Homo sapiens: one gene and its partners. The protein of the gene in region 4 interacts with the protein of the main gene of each other region in a pairwise test. Each region holds a gene or a part of one and is shown on either strand. Other genes may lie near its edges.

Region 1 (7,034 bases), on a different chromosome or scaffold from region 4:
TGACCTTAAGCAACCCATGTTAAACCTCTGAGCCTGTATCTTCCAGCCTGCACCAACAGGGCGGAGGAGGAAGCAGGGCCAGGGAAGGCGCCCGGCACACACAGCTTGGCTTACGAAGGGGAAGACCCGACTGTGCAAGGACACGGAATAAGCACGAGCTTGGGGGCAGACGGGGTGGGGACTTTCTCACTAGAAAAGAGCCTGGGGGCCTCCATCAGGGTAGGGGGTGAGAGGGCTCCAGAGAGCTGGGCCCCAGCCAGTGGCCCCGGGTGCACACTGCTCCAGGCCTGGCTCCCTCACCAATGCCCAGGTGCGTGTTGATGGAAGCGTAGCGGGCCGTGCCGGTCAGGTTCTTGTTTTCCCGGTAGGGAATGTGCTGGTGGGTGCGGGCGTCCCGGTACTTCTTGGCCAGGCCGAAGTCGATGATGTAGACCAGGTTGCCCTTCTTCCCCAGCCCCATGAGGAAGTTGTCGGGCTTGACGTCCCGGTGGATGAAGTTCTTGGAGTGGATATACTCGATGCGGCTGATCTGGGGAGGAGGGGGGCCATTTGTTCAACAGAGGGGCCCTTGCCTAGCACTCTGGGCCAGGCAGGGGCTGGGGCCACAGAGGTGGAAAGGCAGAGGGAGAAAGGCCTGCCTTCGACCATGAAGGATAACTAAGGGGCAGGCCAGAGAAGGCCTCCTGGAAAATGTGACATCAGGATGAACTCTAAAGGGGGAGTTCACCAAGTTGGCTGTGAGACAGAGAAAGAGAGTATTGCAGGAAAGCTAATGGGAAGATCCAGAAATGAAGAGTCTGCTAGAAAGGCAACTGGTTCCCCATGGAAGGCTTGCCTGCCCGGCCCCACACTCACAGGACTTAGGGAGCCAGAGAGGCAACAGATGTGGGCGAGGGGCAGGCAGGGAACATGGGGGAAGCCTAGACCAGGAAGAGGTGACAGAGGCAGAACACAAAAGACAGGGCTTCCGAAGGATGCCAAACTCAGACAGGCACATGGCCCTCTTTCCTTTGATATTTTTTTTTTTGAGATGGAGTCTCGGTCTGTTGCCCAGGCTGGAGTGCAGTGGCAAAATCTCGGCTCACTGCAACTTCTGCCTTCAGGGTTCAAGTGATTTTCCTGCCTCAGCCTCCCGAATAGCTGGGACTATAGGCACGCGCCACCACACCTGGCTAATTTTTTGTATTTTTAGCAGAGATGGCGTTTCACCATGATGGTCAGACTGGTCTCAAACTCCCGATCTCAGGAGATCCGCCTGCCTCGGCCTCCCAAAGTGCTGGGATTACAGACTTGAGCCACCTTTTCAGTCGAGTTTTTAAAACTCAAACTAATATCCATCCACATGCCGTGGCCTCTGGCTCTGGCCCCAGGTTCAGCACAGCTCAACATCTCCTGCACCTTTCTTGAGTTTCACACCATGAGGGGCTCTGGCGACCCTCTGCTCACACACCTTCAGCCTACATCGCAGGGCTTTTGCAGACCAAGATTAAAACCCCTGTACGAGATCTCCACATTCCATTCCAAGTTCAAAATTCTACAGTTTTGTATTTTTAAGAAGCTTTCCTCCCTATGCTGATGAAGGGCTTAGTACTTAACAACAGCCTGTTAGAGGGGCCTGTTTTGGCAAGGCGCTGAATGGTATCTCACCTAATCCCCTCAACAACCAACAAAGGAGAGACTCTCACATGAGGCCACTGAGGCTCAGAGAGGTTCGGCGTTCACCTACGGTCACTGGTCTGGAACAGGACCAGGTCTGTGTGACCGACCGCAGGCTTTACATTACCCAGGGCAGGCCAGACGTGGTGGATCATGCCTGTGATCCCGTGTTAATTCCCATCTTGGGAGGCCAAGATGGGAAGACTGCTCAAGGCCAGGAGTTTGAGACCAGCCTGGTCAACACAGTGAGACCCCCATCTCTATTTCTTACAATTAAATGATATTTTTGAAATAAATAAATAAAACTACCCCAGGCAGAGTCCCAGGCCCTGACTCGGCAGGTCTGGAGTTGGGCCTGAAATCACATTTTAAATAAACAACTTGGCTGGGCACGGTGGCTCACGCCTGTAATCCCAGCACTTTGAGAGGCTAAGATGGGCGGATCACTTGGTAAAACTCTGTCTCTACTAAAAATACAAAAATTAGCCCAGCGTGGTGGCAGGTGCCTGTAATCCCAGCTACTCATGAGGCTGAGGCAGGAGAATCGCGTGAACCTGGGAGGCGGATGTTGCAACGAGCTGAGATCGCACCACTGCGCTCCAGCCTGGGCGACAGAGTGAGACTCCGCCTCAAAAAATAAATAAACACCTACAATTCTATAGCCAGTGGACAAGGTCCCCTGGCCCAGGCCCATCCTCTGGCATCCTCTGGGGGCAGGAGGCAGGGCTGGTATCCTGGGCCCACAGGCATCTGGCTGGGGATGGAGGGGACGGGGACTCACCATCTGGTCGGCCAAGAGCAGCACCGTCTTGAGGCTGAATTTGCGGGAACAGAAGTTGAACAGGTCCTCGAGGCTAGGCCCCAGCAGCTCCATGACCATCACGTTGTAGTCGCCCTCAGCTCCGCACCACTTGATGGACGGGATCCCCACTGGGGGTCAAGCAGAGGGCCTCTGTCAGGGGTCAGAGGCAGGCAGCCAGCCACGCCCGGCCCACCCTGTGCTCATGGCTGCCCACCGCCACCCACCCGGCGCCCGCCGCCGCCCACCCTGCGCTCACCGCCACCCTGCATCATCTTGTAGAACTTGCTCTCGATGTGCAGCTGGGGGTGCTTTGTCTTCACACACTCCAGCTTGATGGCGACTTCCTCACCAGAGGCGATGTTGGCACCTGCCCGGGGCAGGGAGGCAAGGGACCAGGGTCACCCTCAAAGGCCAGGCAGTCCCAGGCGCCCCACTAAGCATTTCTGAGATCTGGCGTGTGCCGGGCCCGGGGCCATCTGCCCTTGAGGAGCTCTTGGGGGAGGCTGGGAAGGGGGCAAAGGAGCCCCGGCAAAGGGTTCCTGAGGGGAAAGAAGGTCAGCGCTGTGAGGGACAGAGGTGACACACAAGGGCTACCCAGGGCCACAGGTTGGGGCGACAAGAAGGCCCGATGTGAGTGGGGCAAGGGTCAGGTATGCAAAAGGCTCACAGACCACCTAAGGGAGGGGGCTGAGTCCTAGAGCAAATTCAGGCAGTGAGGTCTGTCGGGTTGAGATGGTGGCACGTGCAGAAGAGGCCCAATGGGGCTGGGCTGCCGAACACACCAGAACAAGCCAGGACCACCCTGGCCTACAGGATGAGGATGGGACAGCCGCAGCAACCCCTCAGTCAATGCTGATGCCTTCAGAGGCAGCCCTGCACATTCTAATCCAGTGTCTCATTCGATTCTCAACCCCCTTGTAGAGATGAGAAAACAGAGACCCAGCTAGAGACCCAGCTCAAGGTCACCTGACCTGTAAATGGCGGCCTTGAGATCAACCCCGGCTCTGCTGGCCTCCAGCATAGGTCAGAGGTCCTGCCTGCACCTCCCCGTCTCCCCCAGTCCACTCCTGGCTTCTCAAGGGGCTCTAAGAAAATACCCTCACACACACCAAGGCCCCGCTCTCTGCCTGGGCCCACTGCCCAACTCAAGAAGTCACAAGAAAGACCAAGCCCAAAGTGTACCTTGCCTCAGTTTCCCTGGCTGTATGGGTGGATGAGATGAAGGGCTGGGGCTAGGCTGGGCGACAGGGTGTCTCCTTCCTGGGGCCAGCAGCGAGCCCAGCAGGAGGAGTAGGACAGTGTCGCAACAGGACACAAACAGGCCAGAACAACCCCCAGGGACACAGCCTCAGGAGGAGTTCAAGACAGGAGAAAGGCAGGACCTCACATCAGAGGAAAAGATGAGACTGTTCATTAATAATGTCCCTGAACAACCGGCTGGCCACCTGAGAAAAGACACCATGGCTCACACCACAACCAGGAGAAATCTCAAGTAGAGGAAAAGTTTGTATATAAGAAATAAAGGTGTGGGTGTGAGTTGGCACAGCCCCTGTGCACCTCTTGGGTGAAGCTGAACATAAACAAACGCTCGCCCAAGCAACCCCACTCCTGAGTGTACATCCTTCAGAAACACGTGTGCACCAGGGGGACAGGACAAGGATGGACACAGGAGCAAACAGCCCAAGTGCTCAGCAGCAGAAGAACAGGAACAGTGGCGCAGTCACCAGGGAATCCCAGGCGGCAGTGAAGAGGAAAGGATGCCTGCTTCACACAATGACCCTGGTCCCAGGGGTGCACTCCTCACAGCAGCCAGAGGGTGGAAACAACAAACATCTGTCACAGATGCAAGGATGAATGGAATGCAGTGCCTCCATGCGGCGGAATATTATTCAGCAATAAAGAGGAATAAAGTACCGATACACGCTACGACACGAGTGCACCTTGAAAACATTCTACCCGAGGCCAGGCACAGTGGCTCACGCCCGTAATCCCAATACTTTGGGAGGCTGAGGCGGGTGGATCACAAGGTCAGGAGTCCGAGACCAGCCCAGCCAAGGTGGTGAAACCCTGTCTGTACCAAAAATACAAAAATTAGCCGGGCGCAGTGGCAGGCATCTGTAATCCCAGCTACTTGGGAGGCTGAGGCAGGAGAATCACTTGAACCCAGGAGGCGGAGGTTGCAGTGAGCCGAGATTGTGCCATTGCACGCTAGCCTGGGTGACGGAGTGAAACTCCAGCTCAAAAAAAAAAAAAAAAAAAAAAAAAAGAAGAGTGCAAGCACAGTTCTACTTGTTTCCATATCAAAACAGGCAACAAGACTGGACAATACAGATTTAAACACGAAAGAAAGGAAAAAGATTAAATGTCAGACGGTGGTTCCCAGGGAGGGACACCTTAGGCCATGCAGGTATTCTATACGTATTCTTTGCATCCACTCAACGTTTAATAAGAAATAACAATGAAATGTTAGAAGAAGGGAGAATTGCCTTATAGCCTTGGGGTTAGGCAAAGCTTTTATTTTTATCCCTGATTCAAAATCCTAAAGCCATTTAAAAAAAAAAAAAAAAAGCTCCTTCCTCTCCAAAAAAAAAAGAATCCCTTCTGCATGGCAAAAACACCGGAAATAAAGTCCTAAGAGACATACTCACTTGCAATTCTTATCACAGGCAAAGAGCTAATATGTAATGAGCTCCTACAAATCAGTCAGAAAAAGACTCAGCAGAAAATAGGCCAAAGGATTTGAAACACACACTTCACAGAGAAAGAAATCATTAATAGAAAAGCCTTACTCATAGGGAAAGATGCCCAACCTCCTTGTAAGAGAAATGCAAATTAATATGATCGTGAAAGACCATGTTTCACCTAGGATTGTCAAAAGTCTTACGAGATAACACACCTGTCTGTCGGCAAGACTGTGGGGGCGCTGAGCACTCCTCCCAGGTGGTGGAGGCGTCAACTGCTGAGTCGCCACTGGAGGGGGATTTGACGCTACTCAGCCCTGACCAGCAACCCCGCTTCTGGGAGTTTACCTGACATCCTAGCACGGTGCAAAACAAGGCGGGGACAAGGCTGTCGGCTGCAGGCTGTTTGGAACAGCAGAAGCTTGGAAACAACCCAAATGTCCCTCCTGAGGGGGCTGATTAAATAAAGAATAGCCCATCCATAAAACAGAATACAATGGAAAAAGAACCAGGAAGCTCTCTCTGCACACAAGTGGAAAGATCTCCAAGATACAGGAAGTGAAAAAGCAAAGCACAGAACAGTGTATATTCCACACTCTCATTTCAGTTTTCTTTAAAAAGGTGGGGAACTAAGTATCTGTGTTTGGCTCTAGCTACATAAAGAAACACTGAACAGAAACATGACTGTACAGGGCTAAGTGGGTCAGGGAGGAAGGGGTGGGGGACGCTTCACTGGATACTGTGTTATAAGTTGCAATTTCTTTCAACACCTTTATTGAGATGTAATTCAGATAACTCTCCAATTGAGTCACTCAAAGTGTGCGACTCACCGTTTTTAGTATATTCACAAGCTTGCGCAGCCATTACCACAATCAATTTTAGAACACAGGCCGGGCGCGGTGGCTCACGCCTGTAATCCCAGCACTTTGAGAGGCCGAGGCAGGCGGATCACAAGGTCAAGAGATCAAGACCATCCTGGCCAACATGGTGAAACCCCATCTCCATTAAAAGTACAAAAATTAGCTGGGCGTAGTGGCGCACGCCTGTAATCCCAGCTACTCGGCAGGCTGAGGCAGGAGAATTGCTTGAACCCAGGAGGCAGAGGTTGCAGTGAGCCGAGATTGTGCCACTGCACTCCAGCCTGGCGACAGAGCAAGACTCCATCTCAAAAAAAAAAAAAAAAAAATTAAAAATTAGAACACAGCATCTTCTTATCAGCTGATACCTTCGTATCAGCATCTGCTGTGGGTTCCGCATCTGCCGATTCAACCATGGATCAAAAATACGTGGGGGGAGAAAATAAAAAATAACAACACAACAATAAGAAATAGGTTGGGTGCAGTGATGCACAACTGTAGTACTACCACTTTGGGAGGCTGAGGAGGATTACTTGAGTCCAGCGGTTCGAGACCAGCCTAAGCAACATAGTGAGACCCTATCTCTACAAAAAATACAAATATTAGCCAGGCGTGGTAGCACGTGCCTGTGGTCCCAGCTACCTGGGAGGCTGAGGCAGGAGGACTGCTTGAACCTAGTAAGTCAAGGTTGCGGTGAGCTATGATCACACCACCACACTCCAGCCTGGGTGACAGAGCAAGACCATGTCTCAAAAATAAATAGGTAAATAATATAAAAATTAAAAATACAGTACAATAACTATTTACATAGCATTTACATTGTATTAGGTATTATAAGTGATCTAGAGATGATTTAAAGTATATGGAGAAGGCCAGGTGCCAGCATTTTGGGAGGCTGAGGCAGGCGGATCACCAGGCAAGGAGTTCCAGACCAGCCTGACCACCATGATGAAACCCCATCTCTACTAAAAATACAAAAATTAGCCAAGGTGCTCCCGTGGGAGCGCCTGTAATCCCAGCTCTCAGGAGGCTGAGGTA
Region 2 (7,236 bases), on a different chromosome or scaffold from region 4:
AGGACTTGGCTATGCAATTAGTGTGCTGGTCCAAGTATGGTTCAAACATATTTTATGTAGCCCAATGTCTACATTTTTGTCTGGAATAAATAAAAGACTATTTTGATTATTGTTGTTTTATTTTAAATTTTAAGTACTTTAATTTTGATATTTGATTTTTAAGGTAGACATAACCATATTGATATTATATTCCAAGCAGTGCCATTTCCCACCCGTTAATGATAATTTGGCTCTTATATATGGCAAAAGAGAGAGGTGATTAATGAAGGTGATCAATGGAGGCTTCCAAACTAACAATTAATAATTCAGTGACAGAAAGGCTGCAACCACAAACTATTTGGAAAACAGACAAATTTTGAATTTCAGAAAATAATAATCTATTGGTGGTATGTTACAGTTTCTTTCAGAAAAAATGACCCTTTTGAATTATCTGAGGCAAAAAAGAAAGAAAATTATTTGATAAGTGAATTGTGTGCTGGGTAAAGCTTCTGTTCAACGATGTATCTTAAAACTTGAAATAGTAATTTCTCTCATTCTGTGATGTGTGTTATTTCAGCACACCAAACACCAAATGAAGTGTAATAGATTTTATAAAAATGCCAAGGCAGGTAATAATTTACATGTTCTTTTTTTATTAAAAAAATCAATAGTATGTATTATAAACCTTGTGAAATGCTGACACAGGAAAAAAAATCCATGTTCAAATCAGTTTTCTTTGTACAGATAAATGGCCTCAGATGTAAACCAGACAATGATTAGCTAATTCCTTTTCTGATCTATATTTCTAAAGTAGAATCTACACAAATGAATGAGATGTGACTATTTCCATTTAAAATTTATAGTTACAGCTGAGCTAAGCTTTGGAAAAATATTTGAAGATGTGTGTTTTTCTTTTTGCAGGGAATGCATTCTAAATTTTCTTATAAACCTATTACTTTACACTTTTATTTACCAAGCATATTCTTTTTCAAGGATTATGTGTTTTTGACAGCATTTAAATTTCACTAAAAACAAAGTTGAACTACCAAGAGCAACAGTAATAAATATTTTATACTTTATGTAGTCTTTTCATATCTACCTAATCCACATAACAACTTGGGTGAGCAGAGCTGAGAGTAGGTATTAGTATCCTTATTATACAGATGAGAAAATTGTGTTTCCAAAAATATAAATAATTGATATTTTTGGAAACACAATTTTATAAATAATTGATATTGACCTGGGCTCCAATAGAGTAGCTGGAGCTCTTTGGTTTTATTCATGGTCCGAATAAGTTAGAGAACCAGAACTTGGCAACCATCCAAGTAGGTAGGCATCATTGTTCAGGTTAAGGAAGGGACCACTCATGAATGAGATACCACCACAGACAAACACAGGTAGCTCCTCCTTCAGGCCTTTCCCCAGCCACTCTCCAAGCATGGTACCTGAGTTCTATAGCCCACCACTTTAAGAATGATGCCCAACTCTGGGCCAAGCATGTGTGAATTACAATGGAGCTTCTAAGGGAGCAGGTAAAGGGATTTTTCCCTGTTTAGCTTTGATTCCTTTCTGTGTAGTGATAGAGATTAGTGACACATTTATGTGGTCTAGAGTAAAAAGGATAGAAACATATCTTACATGTGTAACTTAAACTCTAAGCTAATGAGATGAGAAGGGAAGCTATATCACTGTTTCATTTTGGCAACTTATTTTTCCTGTTTCATTATTAATCCAGATTTCCCTCTTCTAAATTTTTTTTAAAGAAACAAGATACTACAGTTAGAGTAGAAGCTTCCTTCCATCCCATGACCATTCTTCTATTTCCTGAGGTGACTAATATTCTGAAGTTGATCTGTATTTATTCCATTCACATATTTTATATGATACACCATGTATGATTATCAAATTGTTTTATGTGCATTTTAAGAGCTACACAAATGGTAGCATTATATAGTTAACACATCAAGTTCTACGTTTTTCCCTTACATTTATGTTTCTGAGATTCAGTCTTGGTGATACACATAAGCCTAGTTTGTCCTTTTTATGAGTATACAAGAAAATATAAATTCAGTGAGAGCAGAACTTTATTTTATTCACTGCTCTGACCTAAGTAACTTGAGCAGAATATTTCTTTAATGAAGTAGTGAATTTGAGAGAATGAGTTAGTGTATATAAATGAATGAATTAATGTACAAATGAATGTGTGCTATTAGCTTATATTTTTTCCTATTTCTGGCTTTGTCTGATTTTGACATTAAGGTTATTCTGCCTTCACAAAATGAACTGAGTAGCTTTAAAACATTTTGTATAAATGTATATTTATTCCGCAGGATATGCTAAGGTCTAGCACTTTCCTCTGGGTAGATCTTGATGAATGATTTGATTTCTTTAATGTTATAGTTCGATTACAGTTTCTGAAAATTTTCTTCTTGAACTATTTTTGGTAGTTTATGTTTTTCTATACAATTATTCCTGTTGTCTCCATTTTTAGATTTAATGGTGTATTAGTTTACTATTGCTACTGCAACAAATAACCATAAATTTTGTGGCTTAAAACAACACACATTCATTATCTTACAGTTATGGAGGTCAGAAGTCTCAAATGGGCTAGTAGATCCTTTTTTATGCCCATTCTAGCTTCCAGAGATTGCCCACATCACTTGGCTTGTGTTTGTTTTTACTCTGACCCTCCTGCCTCTCATTTGTAAGGGCTCTTGTGATTATAGTGTACCCACCTGGATAATCACGATACTCTCCCCATCTCAAGAGTCTTAGCTGAATTGCATTGGCAAAATCCCTTTTGCTCTGTAAGGTAACATACTCACAGGTATTAGGAATTAGGATTCGGACATTTTTTTGGGGGGGCATTATTCTATTTACCACAATTGGTATCATATGTTCCATTGTGTTTTCTCCTGCCTCTCTAGATGTGTTGCTTTAAAAAAATTCAGGCCGGGTGTGATGGCTCACGCCTGTAATGCCAGCGCTTTGGGAGGCCGAGGCGGGCGGATCACGAGGTCAGGAGCTCAAGACCAGCCTGGCCAACATAGTGAAACCCCGTCTCTGCTAAAAATACAAAAAAAATTAGCCGGGCATGGTGGCGGGTGCCTGTAGTCTCAGCTACTTGGGAGGCTGAGGCAGGAGAATCGCTTGAACCCGGGGAGGCGGAGGTTGCAGTGAGTCGAGATCGCACCACTGCACTCCAGCCTGGGCGACACAGCAAGACTCTGTTTAAAAAAAAAATTCAGAATGTGTTTATTTCTTCCTCTATCATTTTCTCTTCATTAATTTGTCTATTTTATTAGCTATGCCCTGACAGTTTTGACAGGGTTGTGGGATATAGTAGAAAGGTTGGAAAGGCATGGACAGCCGTGCTGGGAGTGCTGTTCGAGTAATTTTCTGCCTCCAGTCATTTCCCACTACTTCATCAAATACAACTACCTCACTATGCTCTGGGTGGTACGAAGTAACCCATGGTAGGATGCTTCCCAACTCAGTGTTAAAGGTAATGGTGCATCCTGAGCTTTCTCGCTCTGCATCTCAATCCTGGAACTGGTAATTCTCTATGACTGACACCTCTGAGCTCCCATTCTCTCCTATCTCTAGGGAATACCTGAGGAGGTGAGGTTTCACCTTCTTACTCCCCGCGGCCCAACCCCCGTCCGCCCCTCCCCCGCCCCGCCCCTCGCCCCCCAGAGCTGAGACCTGGGCATGCGCATCAGCCGCAACAGATTGGAGGGGACCCTGCTGCTCACTCCCCTGCTACCCTCCTCTCTTCCCTCCCCCGACCGCTCTCATATTCCCGTTCCCACCCCCACCCCCCACTCCCGCCCCGCACCCGCCCCTAGCCCGGGCTCGGGGACCTGTCAGGCTGGTTTCGACAGCTGGGGAATTAACCTGTCCCGCCCATCCCTAGCCTCGAGCCGCGCAGGCTCCGCGCCTCCGCCCTTGTTCCCTCCCAGCTCCTCCGAGTGGAAGCCGCTACAAATGGCTTGAATGAAACGTGTGTGGGTTTAGTGAGTGGTGAACCACCAGGGGATCCCGTCTCCCCACAAACCAGTATCTCTCCGAGGAGGAGGCGAAGGAGTGGGAGGAGGCAACGAGCCGAGAGTCGAGCTTCGCGGGCGCGCGCAGCGGCTGGAGCGCGGGGGCGAGGCCGGGCCACCTCCCCTTCCCGGCCGCGCACTGCCTGGCCCGCGGCGGTTCCAGGCACCACCCTTCCCGTCCGGGCTGAGCCCGCTGTGGCAGTGACTAGCTCCCGCGGCTAGCGGCACTGTCCACCGACGAGCGGCGCCCTCTTCTCCCCCTTCTCCCCACGATTTCCTTCTCTGCGGCGGCACGCCGTCCAGCAGCCTGCTTCGCCCCGTCGTCAACTTTGAGCTGGAGGAGAAGCAACTTTGGCAGTGGCCGCGGGGTTGGAATCCCGCTTCTCCTCGGCAGCAGTAGGCTCGCAAGTCGCTGGGGTTAGGTGGGGCAAGAGTTTCGCCGGCGCATCAGCGCTGCTTCGGACTGTTTGCAACGTGTTTCCAGCGAGCTGGGAGCGGGGTTGTGACTGCGAGTCGTCTGGGGGAGGGGGACTTGTTTTTCTTTTCCTCTAGAGACCTCGGCTTGCAACTGGATCAAACGCTGTCGAAAGGATGTAAATAGGCAGAGCAACTGTTACCAAGAAGGCCACCACCCCCACCCAAAGGCAGTGAGGAGTGTGGGGCTTCGTCTGGGCTCCCCCGAGTCTCAACAGTAATCAACAGTCAGGTGTTGATTGCAACTTTTCAAGGTCAGCCACCGGGAGTAGCCTATTCCCTCTAGGAACCTTGGAGGGCATACCTTGCTGGGACTCAACTTGGCTGAGAAATGCACAAGATGCCAAAGGAGGAAGGATTATAGGGGGCGTGTGTGTGACCCCCAAGACCGATCTTCCGCTATCACCCTAATCTCCGGTTCCCCGCTACCCGGGCGGGGGTGAGTATGTGACATGTGCCTAACTCTCAGCAGCAACTTCGGCAGCAGGTGTCGATCCTAACTAAGCAGGAGCTGCGGCTGCCGGGTGTGCCCTCACCAAGCCATGCGAGCCCCGGGCGCGCTTCTCGCCCGCATGTCGCGGCTACTGCTTCTGCTACTGCTCAAGGTGTCTGCCTCTTCTGCCCTCGGGGTCGCCCCTGCGTCCAGAAACGAAACTTGTCTGGGGGAGAGCTGTGCACCTACAGTGATCCAGCGCCGCGGCAGGGACGCCTGGGGACCGGGAAATTCTGCAAGAGACGTTCTGCGAGCCCGAGCACCCAGGGAGGAGCAGGGGGCAGCGTTTCTTGCGGGACCCTCCTGGGACCTGCCGGCGGCCCCGGGCCGTGACCCGGCTGCAGGCAGAGGGGCGGAGGCGTCGGCAGCCGGACCCCCGGGACCTCCAACCAGGCCACCTGGCCCCTGGAGGTGGAAAGGTGCTCGGGGTCAGGAGCCTTCTGAAACTTTGGGGAGAGGGAACCCCACGGCCCTCCAGCTCTTCCTTCAGATCTCAGAGGAGGAAGAGAAGGGTCCCAGAGGCGCTGGCATTTCCGGGCGTAGCCAGGAGCAGAGTGTGAAGACAGTCCCCGGAGCCAGCGATCTTTTTTACTGGCCAAGGAGAGCCGGGAAACTCCAGGGTTCCCACCACAAGCCCCTGTCCAAGACGGCCAATGGACTGGCGGGGCACGAAGGGTGGACAATTGCACTCCCGGGCCGGGCGCTGGCCCAGAATGGATCCTTGGGTGAAGGAATCCATGAGCCTGGGGGTCCCCGCCGGGGAAACAGCACGAACCGGCGTGTGAGACTGAAGAACCCCTTCTACCCGCTGACCCAGGAGTCCTATGGAGCCTACGCGGTCATGTGTCTGTCCGTGGTGATCTTCGGGACCGGCATCATTGGCAACCTGGCGGTGATGTGCATCGTGTGCCACAACTACTACATGCGGAGCATCTCCAACTCCCTCTTGGCCAACCTGGCCTTCTGGGACTTTCTCATCATCTTCTTCTGCCTTCCGCTGGTCATCTTCCACGAGCTGACCAAGAAGTGGCTGCTGGAGGACTTCTCCTGCAAGATCGTGCCCTATATAGAGGTAATGCCTTCCAGGGGCTCTCAAGCTAGTGGCTTTATCTGTTTTCGGGATTATAGCATCAGAGAACTGCTGCTGGATGCACCTATCTAGCTGAACGCCTTTCCTTTTTATCTGGGGCCCTCTTTCATTTCTCTTTCCAATCATTTATGCATGTATGTATATACAAAAAGAGGCAGCTTCGCGAAATCACCTTCAAATTCATCTGCTCCTGGGCTGTAAAAAAAGGATGATCTCACAATATACAGAATTGTTTGGAGTATAAATCTATCTCCCTGAATATGGTGTTATGCGTATTTCTGATTTGGCACTTGTCAGAGATTTTAGGGTTAAGTAAATGGCCAGCCTAAGGTTGTCATCATCAGAGCCTACAAGGAAAAAAAAAAAAACATTAGCATTTGTGTACTAGTTACCAAGTGCTTCAATGTGAGTTTTCCCCCAAGAAGATTATTGCATTTTTTCTTAAACAGCAAAGTTGGAGTAACATTTTATTGAAAGAAAGAAAGAAAGAAAATTGTGTTTGTCAGTTGGCCTCATGATATATTAATAACCTCTCAAATTAGTTTAAGTGTCTGACTGTCTTCCATGCTATCCCATCTAAATTCTTAAGTCATTTTTTGTTCCTGTCTTTTCCCATCTCGGTTTCTTAATTTTATTTTTGTGTGTTTGCGTGAACTTAAGCAAAAATAAGACTTTGGCCAGCGTGGCACATAATTTGTTTAACATTCTCAAAGTTATACATTTGTTATTTGTTATGGGTGGAAAGATTGGCTATTTTAAGGGATTGACCCTAAGACTAGAAAATTTCTTGGGAAGAAGGGGGCACATCTAGTTTCCAAACTTTGGAAACAAAAATCATTTTGAGTGAAATTGCATTGTTTCATCCTACAGCTAGTGTCCTGGCCCACTATTGTGGTAGGTGGACTTTGCTCTTTAAATGGCCTCTCTTTAAACACCAGCTCTTGGAAGGGGCCCAACTGTTTTGCTGCCAGTTGTGTTTTTAGCCAGCTGGCCCTTGATTTTCTCCATTCAGACTGTCCATTTCATTTATGGAAGCAGAAGAAGGGAAACTGTAAATATTCCGCAGCCCCTGATCCTGTCTGGCACCAGGGCCTGTGACACTATGTTCAACATTGTTCCAGGCCTAAAGCTGGGGGATAAGTAAACAGAAAACA
Region 3 (7,034 bases), on a different chromosome or scaffold from region 4:
CAAATCAATAAATGTAATCCATCATATAAACAGAACCAATGACAAAAACCACACAATTATCTCAATAGATGCAGAAAAGGCCTTGGACAAAATTCAACACCGCTTCATGCTAAAAACTCTCAATAAACTAGGTATTGATGGAACGTTACTCAGAATAATAAGAGCTATTTATGACAAACCCATAGCCAATATCATACTGAATGGGCAAAAGCTGGAAGCATTCCCATTGAAAACTGGCACAAAACAAGGATGCCCTCTCTCACCACTCCTATTCAACATAGTATTGGAAATTCTGGCCAGGGCAATCAGGCAAGAGAAAGAAATAAAGGGTATTCAAATAGAAAGAAAGTCAAATTGTCTTTGTTTGCAGATGACATGATTGTATATTTAGAAAATTCCATTGCCTCAGCCCCAAAACTCCTTAAGCTGATAAGCAACTTCAGCAAAGTCTCGGGATACAAAATCAATCAGCAAAAATCACAAGCATTCCTATACACCAATAATAGAGAGTCAAGTCACGAATGAACTCCCATTCACAACTGCTACAAAGAAAATAAAATACCTAGGAATCCAACTTACAAGGGATGTGAAGGACCTCTTCAAGGAGAACTACAAACCACTGCTCAAAGAAATAAGAGAGGACACAAACAAATGGAAAAACATTCCATGCTCATGGATAGGAAGAATCAGCATCATGAAAATGGCCATACTGCCCAAAGTAATTAATAGATTCAATGCTATTCCCATCAAGTTACCATTGACTTTCTTCACAGAACTAGAAACAACTACTTTAAATTTCATATGGAACCAAAAAAAGAGCCTGTATAGCCAAGACAATCCTAAGCAAAAAGAACAAAGCTGGAAGCATCATGCTACCTGACTTCAAACTATACTACAAGGCTACAGTAACCAAAATAGCATGGTACTGGTACCAAAACAGATACATAGACCAGTGGAACAGAACAGAGGCCTCAGAAATAACACCACACACCTACAACCATCTGATCTTGACAAAAACAAGAAATGGGGAAAGGATTCCCTATTTAATAAATGGTGCTGGGAAAACTGGCTAGCCATATGCAGAAAACTGAAACTGGACCCCTTCCTTACACTGTATACAAAAATTCACTCAAGACGAATTAAAGACTTACATGTAAAACCTAAAACCATAAAAACCCTAGAAGAAAACCTAGGCAATACCATTCAGGACATAGGCATGGGCAAAGACTTCATGACTAAAACACCAAAAGCAATGGCAACAAAAGCCAAACTTGACAAATGGGATCTAATTAAACTAAAGAGTTTCTGCACAGTGAAAGAAACCATCATCAGAGTGAACAGACAACCTATAGAATGGGAGAAAATTTTTGCAATCTATCCATCTGACAAAGGTCTAATATCTAAAATCTACAAGGAACTTAAACAAATTTACAAAAAAAAAAAAACCCATCAAAAAGTGGGTGAAGGATATGAACAGACACTTCTCAAAAGACATTTATGTGGCCAAAAAACATGAAAAAAAAGCTCATCATCACTGGTCATTAGAGAAATGCAAATCAAAACCACAATGAGATACCATTTCATGCCAGTTAGAACAGCGATTATTAAAAGTCAGGAAACAACAGATGCTGGAGAGGATGTGAAGAAATAGGAACGCTTTTACACTGTTGGTGGGAGTGTAAATTAGGTCAACCATTATGGAAGACAGTGTGGTGATTCCTCAAGGATCTACAAACAGAAATATCATTTGACCCAGCAATCCCATTACTGGGTATATACCCAAAGGATTATAAATCATTCTACTATAATGACACAGGCACATGTATGTTTATTGTGGCACTGTTCACAATAGCAAAGACTTGGAACCAACCCAAATGCCCATCAATGATAGACTGGATAAAGAAAATCTGGCACATATACACTGTGGAATATGAAGCAGCCATAAAAAAGAATGAGTTCATGTCCTTTGCAGGGACATGGATGAAGCTGGAAAGCATCATTCTCAGCAAACTAACATAGGAACAGAAAACCAAACATCGCATGTTCTCCATAAGTAGGAGTTGAACAATGAGAACACATGGACACGGGGAGGGGAACAGCACATACCGGGGCCTGCCAGGGGTTGAGGGGCAAGGGGATGGAGACCATTAGGACAAATACCTAATGCATGTGGGGCTTAAAACCTAGATGACAGGTTGATGGGTGCAGCAAAACCACCATGGCACATGTATACCTACGTAACAAACCTGCAGGTTCTGTACATGTATCCCAGAACTTAAAGTATTAAAAAAAAAGCAAAAACTAAAGCTGCTTACAAGAGCTTAGAGAACTCAAAACAAAACAAAACAAAAACAAAAAACCTCATACACAAGAAAAACTTTAAAACTTTTTAGAGACTGGTTAAGAGGTTGTGATAAAAATGCTGATTAAAATATAGACAGTAAAGGCCACGTTCATGAGATCTCAAATAAAATTTTTAAAAACTAAAACAAAAAAATGGCCACATTATATGTTATGCTTGTTAACAAAAAACTTGGCTACATTGTATCCATGCCTAGGACTTTGTAAAAGGCTGAACTTAAGAGTAATGACTTAAGCTACCTGGCAAAAAAAAGTTTCTAAACAACAAAGCGTTCAAAAGGTGACATGGCTGCTTCTAACAGCCTACTATCAGATATGGGAGTTCAAAAAAAAGACAAAGTTAAAGCTAATAATTAAGAGAAAAACAGAGCATACAAATTTGAAAAATTTACAACCTAACCATGTGGTAGAGGGAAGTTTTCAGGAGAGAAATCCAAACTACCTAGCCCCAGGTACCAGGCCCTGACAGAACAGGTTGTTAAAGCAATTAACATGAATAAAAGAGAGCCAGTTGTTAACAGTCAAGACAATGGGGAAAAGCCCCCAAGACATTCCAGAAATCAAGGCTACCCCTTCCATCACAGGCTCAGAGGCCTCCTCGGGCAAAATGGTTTGGGAGGCCAGGCCCAGGGTGTTGCTGCCTTGTGCGGTCTTGAGATGCTACTCCCCACGTTCTGGCTGCTCTGGCTGCAGCCAGGGCTCAAAAGGCCCCAGGTACTGTCTGGACTGCCACTCCAGTGGGTGCAAACCATAGGCCTTGATGGTTTCCAAGTGGTGTTAAGTCTGCAGGTATACAGAATACAAGATCCATGGAGGTTTGGCAGCTTCCACCTAGATTTCACAAGATATGTCAAGAAGTCTGGCTGTCCAGGCAGAAGCCTGCCACAGCAGAGCTCCTACAGAGAGATTCTACTAGGCTGGTGCCAAGGGGAAATATGGGGTTACAGTCCCCACAGAGAACTCACTGTAGAGCAGCGGGAACAGGGGCACTGCCCTCCAGGACCCACAGTGGTGGCAGTCTAACTAAAGCCAAGAGAAGAAGAGAAAGGTGTGGTCAAATGTGTTAAATACTGTTAAGAAAAAGAAAAAGAAAGAAACAAAGAAAGAAAGAAAAAGAAAGAAAGGAAAAGAAAAGAGAAAAGAAAAAAAGAAAAGGAAAAGAAAAGTCAGGGAGTGGAAAGATTAAAAGTATCCTTTGGATGTAAACAGCATACACCCTCAGCCTGGAAAAGTGACAGACATTAGACTCCAATCCATGAGAGCAGCCATGTGGGCTATGCCCAACCAAGCCATAGAGATGCAGCTGCCCAAGGTTTTGAGAGCTCACCTCTTGGACCAGTGTGCTCAGGATGTGGGAGGGAGTGGAAAGTGAGGAAGTGGAAAGATTAAAAGAATCCTTTGGATGAAAACAGCACACACCCTCAGCCTGGAGAAGTGACAGACATTAGACTCCAATCCATGAAAGAAGCCATGTGGTCTGTGCCCAACCAAGCCATAGAGATGGGGCTGCCCAAGGCTTCAAGAGCCCACCTCTTGGACCAGTGTGCTCAGTTATGGGACAAGAGTCAAGCGAGATTATTTTACAGCTTTAAGATTTAATGTCTGCCCTTGTAGGTTTCAGACTTGGGTGGGTCCCTTTTTGTTGGTCAATTTGTCCCTTTTAAAATGAAAATATTTACCCAATGTCTGTTCCACCATTGTATCTTAAAAGTAGATAACTTGTTTTTGATCTTACAGGTTCATAGCTATAAGGAATCTGCCTTGAGTCTCGGATAAGATTTTAGACTTTGAGTTGATGTTGAAACTAGTTAAGATTTCTGGGGACTTTGAAAGAGATGATTATATCTTACAATAGAAAAAAGAGGGTGGGCATGGTGGCTTACACCTATAATCCCAGCACTTTCAGAGGCTGAGGCAGGAGAATTGCTTTAGCCCGGGAGTATGAGACAGCTTAGTGAGATCTCACCTCTACAAGTAATAAAAAAAATTACCTGGCCATGGTAATGCATGCCTGTGGTCCCAGCTACTTGGGAGGCTGAGGTGGGACAACTGCTTGAGCCCAGGTGGTTGAGGCTACAGTGAGCCATGATCACGCCTCTGCACTCCAGCCTGGGCAACAGAGTGATACCCCGTCTCAAAAATAAAAATAAAAATAATAAATAAATAAGACAAGATATTTGGGGGGCTAGAAGTGGAGTGATATAGTTTAGATATTTGTCCTTTTCAAATCTCATGTTAAAATGTTATCCCCAATGTTGGAGGTGAGAGGTGTTTGGAACATGAGATAAGATCCCTCATGAATGGCTTGGTGCTATCACGTAATGAGTGACTTCTCACTCTATTAATTAACAGAACAATTAATTATTAAAAAGAGACTGGTATCCCTCCCCTCTCTCTCTCGCCATGTGATATGTCAGCTCCACTTCCCCTTCCATCATGATTAAAAGCTTTCTGAGGTCCTCACCAGAACCAGAGGCTGAAGCCATGCTTCTAGTAAAGCCTGCAAAACTATGAACCAAGTAAACCTCTTTTCTTTATAAATTACCCACCCTCAGGTATCCCTTTATAATAACACAAACAGACTAAGGGAGTGCTCTTATAAAAAGGGCTGCAGGAACTTGTTTACCCCTTCTGCCATGTGAGGAGACAGAGAAAGCATCGTCTATTCAGCAGAGACACTGAATCTGCTGGTGCCTTGATTCTGGACATCTTCCAAAACTGTGAGAAATAAATTCCTGTTGTTTATAAACTACCTAGTCTAAAGGTATTTTGTTATAGCAGCTCAAACAAACTATTAATAAAACAATACTAACATTCACAAATGAGGGCAGCAAATGCTAAGAGTGATGTGAGGAGCAACAGCAAAAAGTGGTGCAAGAGTTCAGAATACTGCTAATCATCCCAGACAAGCACAGAGTTGTACAATCATCCATCACCTTCTAGAACAGTTTCATCATCTCAAAAAGAAACCTTGTGCCCCTTAGCTATCACCTCCCAACTCCCTAGCTTCCCCAGTCCTAAGGAGCCACTAGTCTGCTTCCTCTCTCTATACATTTGCCCACTGTGGACATTCCATATAAACAGAATCATATAACACATGGAATTTTGTGACTGGCTTCTTTCGTTTAGTTTGTTTTTAAGGTTCATTCATACATGTAGCGTATATCAGTACTTCATTCCTTTTTATGGCCAAATAATATTCCATTATATGGATATACCATATTTTGTTTACCCATTCATCAACTGATGGCCATTTGGGTTGTTCCCACCTTTTGGCTATTATGAATAATGCTTCTGTGAATGTTAGTGTATAAGTTTTTGTATAGGATAATTTTTCTAAGAGATGCAAATTTTCATAAAGCTTGTAAATTTACCCAAATCAAAAACATGTTATTCTGAGACAATGTCCTTCAAATTTTTTGTTGTTGTTGTTTGTTTGTTTGTTTTTTAAGAGATAGGGTCTCTCTGTGTACCCAGGCTGGAGTGCAGTAGCCCATTCATAGCTCATTGCAGCTTCCAACTCCTGGGCTCAAGTGATTCTCCTGCCTCAGCCTCCTGAGTAGCTGGGATTGCAGGCATGAGACATTGAGCTCTGCCAAACTTTTTTTTTTTAAATATAAAACATCCTTTTTAAATGAAAGGATGGCAATATCAAAAAGTGGTTTTGTTAATGTGCTTATTAGGTAGAATACTATTTAAAATTTTGCTTTTCTGTTAAATCCAAAAGTCTAAAAAGTGTTGACCGAAGAAAATACAAGATAGCTTCTAAAGAAAACTAAGAGGGTTTTCCCCCTGGAGTTGAAATCACATATTGTAAACAGCAGAAAATGAAATACATAAGCCAAAAGGTAGATCTTGCCAGGCTAAGGAATTTGGGCATTATCCCATAGTCAATAAGTAAATTAATAAAGCTGTTTAAATATAAAATTATTGACTCCAAGATATCACTATATTCAACAAACAATAATTGAGCTACTACTATATAAAAAGCACTGAATTTGGTACTATGAGTGATTCCAAAAAGACTTTTGCCTCTGACACTACCAAAACCACTCCAGATAAAATTCCAAATGACCTAAAATTGCTAAATCCAATTTTTATTTTTCAGTTCTCCTCTTGACCTATCGGTAGCATCTGACGTAAGTAAAACACTCTTCCTTGAAATATTTTCCTTCTTTCTTTTTTTTCTTTTTCTTTTTTTTTTTGAGACAGAGTCTGGCTCTGTTGCCCAGGCTGGAGTGCAGTGGCACGATCTCGCCTCACTGCAACCTCTGCCTCCTGGGTTCAATCGATTCTCCTGCCTCAGCCTCCTCGAGTAGCTGGGATTACAGGCATGTGCCATACGCCTATCTAATTTTTTTGTGTTTTTTACTAGAGACGGGGTTTTGCCATATTGGCCAGGCTGGTCTCAAACTCCGGGCCTCAAGTGATCTGCCTGCCTCAGCCTCCCAAAGTGCTGGGATTACATGCCTGACCAAAATACTTTCTTTACTTGGCTTCTAAGACACCATACTCTTCTGGGTTTTCTTCTTACATTACTAGTGGCTCCTTCGCAGTCTCATATGCTGGTTCTTTCACAGCTCCACAATTTATAAACATTAAGAGTATTCAAGGTTCAGCCCTTGCACCATTTGCATCTCTTGTCTATCTCATTTTATTAATGCTGTCAGTCT
Region 4 (4,866 bases):
GATTGCCTAACAATATTACTGCAAACAATGGAGATTTAAGTAGCTATCTTAATTTTGCCAACATGGGAACAACTGATAGGAAAAGAAAAAGAAGCTAGTGGTCTTGCTGAGGTGCACTCCATTCATGGCCAAGGGTGATTTCTGGTTATATCAAGTACCCCATTCCTCTCTCACATCTCCTACCTAGAAAGACTACCTTATTAGACACAACGAACCATTACTCAGTTGGCATTATAGAAAATAGCAACAGTCCTTGCCAGAATCTCAACTCTAAAATCTTTTTTTAAGCCCTGTGTGTGTGTGTGCATGTATATATACATATATATATATACACATACATATATACACATATACATATATATGTGTGTATATACACACACACACATATATACATATACACACATTTCCCCATGCTGAATCAGAGATTTACATAAAACATCCTGCTATGCTCAGGGGAAAGATACTTGTAGTGAGTTAAATTATTAGTTTTACAAAAAAGGCAAGGTAGATTAGACACCAAACACCACAGTTGGTTAGAAATATTTATTATCCCCTCCCCCCACATACAGATTACTTCTCAGAAACATGAAGATATTATCCATGTCCTCATCAATTACAGTTTGTAGAAAATAAACTTAACTCATATCCCATCAACAATGTATTTCTATCATTTTTTTAAACAATAGCCATTTCATTTTTCCATGTTAGTTCCAGAATAGCTTCAAGTTTTATCTTTTGGATCGAATCCAGTCAATCTTTGTTTATAGGTAACAGTTTCCTAACAGATCCCCTCCCCCAACCCCTAAAAAAATTCTATATCCTAAGTGATAAACTCTTCTTGTACATTCAGCAAACTTTATATTGGAAAAGAAAAAGAATAATTGAGATAGGTATTTACTTTCGTGCACAGTAATAAATCTAGCTGAGCTGCTACACCTTGCTTTGCAAAGATGTTTACATAAAATAAATCATCTCTTATCAAGTTACAATGGTAATTTCTTGAAATGTAGATATGAAAGCTATACACTTAATCCACTGAAATTTCCTTCTAATTTTTTAATCTGTAATTAAACCATCACCATAAGGACAAGCTTCATCCCAAGATGTTCCCCCTTTTCCCCTCAGCTATTTCTATCAACTTGAATCCTCTCTCAGATCATGTAAAGAGATACATTAAAAGCACAGGAAAAAAAATGTTTTAGCTTGCTGACATAATGCCCTTAAGTTTGCTGACATAATGCCCACATTTTAACTTTAAAATGTAAAATCAAAGTTAAAGCATCACTTAATTCATACAGTACATTATTAATCAACAGTGTCCCACCAACTCAGAAGTTTCCTAAATTGGCTGCTTTCTCTGCATTTAGTAAGTTTATAACCAATGACTCAATCAAAGAATGTGCTTGTAATAGGCTGCTGGTTTAATTTTAGAATCAAAAGTTTTATATTGGGCTACTTTCAAATATAGAAATGCTATGAGTGACATATGAACTATTAATTTTGTTTCCCATTACCTACAGGAAGAATTTATTCAAATAAAATTTTACAAGACAAAATGCAAATCTATATACCTATATAGAGATGTATATATGTATATATTGAACCTAACTAAAGTTTTATAAGCAATACTAACATAGTTCTGGTTACACATTCCTAAAGACTTAATTGTTTTAAAGATACATGTTATAAAGAGGCTTATGCAAAAGGCAAAAATTAAGAATCAACATGATCTTTTGAGGTTTTCATTACTTCAAAAAGCTGTTTCTATCACCCATAGAAGAAAACTATGCATTTGTTTATCTTAGGAAAAAAAATTATAAAAAGATAATGCTATCATGTAAAGATTCACAAAAACTATACTGTATATCCCATAAGAGTTATACCTACTTAAGGTAAATCACAATTATGGTTTATATTGTACTACAGACATCACCATCGCCTTTCCTCTTTAATAATGAGAGGGTTTAACTTTTTTTTAACTTACTTAACTAGTGCCACAGTAAATCAAGTCCCAGTAGCAACAAGTTAAACAAGATTACAAAATAAGGCATTCTGCTCACACGTCATGAAAGTAACAGGCTTAGTACAGTAAAGCGGGCTGTTATCATTTTTGCAATTTTATATAATCCAAACATTATACAGAAGGCAATCTTTACCAAAAAATCCAATTAATTGCTATTTTCCAGGTAAACAGGAAAACATACATAAAATCCTCAACTTTGGCTATTTCTCCTACTACCATAAACAGATGCTGATCTTATCTACTTAATCAAGTCCACTATTAGAAATGTGGATAAAATGTCTTTGACTATACCATTTCTAAGCCTGTAGGTCACACACTAGATGATTTTTCAAATTATAAATTAAATCTAATATGACAAAATCCCTGTAGTGTTATTTAGGAAAAAAGAAGTGGACTCAGAACATACACACGCACGCACACACACACATGCCATCATATTAAACAGTTGCTTTAAACATTAATTAGTTCTTCAGAAAGAATAAAAATTCTTTAACATCAAGCTGCAGCATGTGTATAAGGGGCAGCAATGCAACCTTTCTCAGCACAAGGTAAGAATATGAATCAACTTTTAAACAACTAGTACCCTGAACCAAAGATTTTGCCAAAGATGAACTCTAAAATACATGTTTTTTTTTTTTGTCGTTGAAATTTGGATTCAATTGCCTGTTGCACTTTTACATTAAGTGTTGCTTAAATAAACAAAAATAGAGCATAAATTCAATATTCTACTGTCTAAACATTTTAAAGCAATGGTTATGCCATCATAAACAAGTAAAATGCACCTAATTTGGGTCTTTTGACACCTCTTGTTTTAAGTTTCCTGTATGATAAAGTTCTTCACAGTTTAAAATATTGTGAAGAAATATATTTAACTATATTCACATACATATTATGTACATGTACTATGTCTTTGTTGTACCCATAAACTTTGAATACGTGTGTATCAGTAGGATACCCCACACATATGGCAGGAACCCTGAATAATATGGTTGGTGTGGACTGAAATGATTTCCCAGAAAGGCTTAGAAATAAGAAAAGAATATTATTATGAATAATTGTAATAACAGAAATTTTACCTTATTTACATAGTGCCTATCTCCCAAGAGGTAAATATGCTTTACAGACATTTTTTAGTAACTCTGTGAGGTGGGGCATTGGGGACACCATCAATTCTCATTTTCCGCAAGCAAGTAAACTACCCAGGACCACACACTTTAGCAGTGGTAGAGTAAATACAGACATGGAGATCTCCTAAATCCCGAAGTCTCCAATTACCAGATCAAATAGTCTTGTGGTAGTAATAAGATTTCCATCATTCAACAGAACTCCTACCACAAAGGATTAATTTCTAAGTCCTCATACACTTGTGATTGTGCGTTATATTGATAACCACAGGGAGATCAAAATGGTTTTTGGTTTTGGCAGATGAAAAAGTCTAACATTCAGTGTGATTATACTTCAGTGTAACTTCTCCAGTTTAAGTGCGACACAGCTGATTGGTCTATCAGGGAGATGCAGTCAACGTCTAATCATGGCTGAAGAGTTCTCAATCCGAACAGCTATTGCATGATTACAGAGATAGCCTACAATCTTTTATTGTCTTAAAGGTCTTTTCTATCTCCACATATGGTATACACATATAAATATGCATTTTAGCACAAAATGTACAGTTACCATCAGTTCATGTTTAAATAAACAAAGGCCTTAAGGGTGAACTTTAAAGGCCAAGAGCTCCTCAGAGTGCATGTTGTTTAAAGATCGAAGATCTGGCAACTTTAGAAGCAGTTTTGTAAAAATAGAGGCCTCATTTGGATGGTTTTTCATTATTAAGGTCCTTAGTGCACGAATGAGAGTTTCCTGCAAAGCCTCCACAGAGTTGACGTTTTCTATTCCAGATCGATCTAAGAGAGATCAGGAATAGGGAAATAGGAAAAACAGGATAAATTATTAACATTAAATATAAATAAAATTCTTGCTTATCAGTGTCACTAACGAATAGAAAGCAAGGTTTTATACATCTGAATAAAGGCAAAAGTTGACAAATTTCTCAAAATCTCAGTAACAAATCGTTAGCTAGTTACTATATTATAAAGCATATATATCACATAAAACATTTGATCAATCAAAATTCTTTACTGTTAAGAATTTTTATTCACAAGAACATAGAGGTTCTGACTTTTTAAAATTAGATGTCATCTGATTTCAACTGCTTCTAATTAGCAAAATAAAATAATGTAGTATATAAACATATTTTCAATACATATGGAATACACTCCCATTTGTATGTCACCATGTGTGGTAGGCAGCCCCTAAAATGGCCTCCAATGATCCCTTCATCCTGGTATTCGCACCCTTGCGCAACCTCCTCCTACTAAGTGGACCTAGACTTACTAACTTCTAATGAAAAAAAATATGGCAGAATTGATAGGATGTCCGTTCTGAGATTAGCTTACAAGAAACTGTGGCCTCCATCTTAGGTACGCTCTTGCTCACTTACTCTGAGAAAAGCTGCTGCCATGCTGTGAGCCACCCTGTGGAGAGGCCCACATGGCAAGGAACTAAGAGTGGGCTCTAGCCAACAGTCAGCAAGCAACTGAGGTGCTCAGTCCAACAGCTTGCAAGGAACTCAATCTTGCCGATAACTACATACAACTGAAAGCAGATCCTTCCCTACTCAAGCCTTCATATGAGACCACAGCCCTGTCCACAGCTTAACTATAACCTCCTAAGAAACCCTGAGTCAGAGGCACATATCATATCCTATCTCTCATATCATATCTTAACCCTCAAAAACTGTGAGATTAAATAAATGTTTGCATTTGTAAGCCCCTGAATTTTGGGAC

The links.
Region 1: the proteins of NR1D2 (region 4) and CSNK1E interact in a two-hybrid assay, tested with the Homo sapiens proteins (one study listed by BioGRID).
Region 2: the proteins of NR1D2 (region 4) and GPR37 interact in binary tests that used the Homo sapiens proteins (3 or more experiments, as listed by UniProt).
Region 3: the proteins of NR1D2 (region 4) and CRY1 interact in a two-hybrid assay, tested with the Homo sapiens proteins (one study listed by BioGRID).

The regions. Positions count from the first base shown.
Region 1 is NC_000022.11:38,300,424-38,307,457, forward strand, and holds part of CSNK1E (casein kinase I), read right to left. Parts: intron 2,826-7,034; coding exon 2,715-2,825; intron 2,587-2,714; coding exon 2,438-2,586; intron 530-2,437; coding exon 301-529; intron 1-300. Other genes in the region: TPTEP2-CSNK1E (casein kinase I), read right to left, coding at 301-529, 2,438-2,586, 2,715-2,825.
Region 2 is NC_000007.14:124,762,782-124,770,017, reverse strand, and holds the start of GPR37 (prosaposin receptor GPR37 precursor), read left to right. Parts: upstream 1-4,225; 5' UTR 4,226-5,041; coding exon 5,042-6,064; intron 6,065-7,236.
Region 3 is NC_000012.12:107,083,542-107,090,575, forward strand, and holds part of CRY1 (cryptochrome-1), read right to left. Parts: intron 1-7,034.
Region 4 is NC_000003.12:23,976,281-23,981,146, reverse strand, and holds the end of NR1D2 (nuclear receptor subfamily 1 group D member 2), read right to left. Parts: intron 3,925-4,866; coding exon 3,728-3,924; 3' UTR 530-3,727; downstream 1-529. UniProt on the Homo sapiens protein: Transcriptional repressor which coordinates circadian rhythm and metabolic pathways in a heme-dependent manner.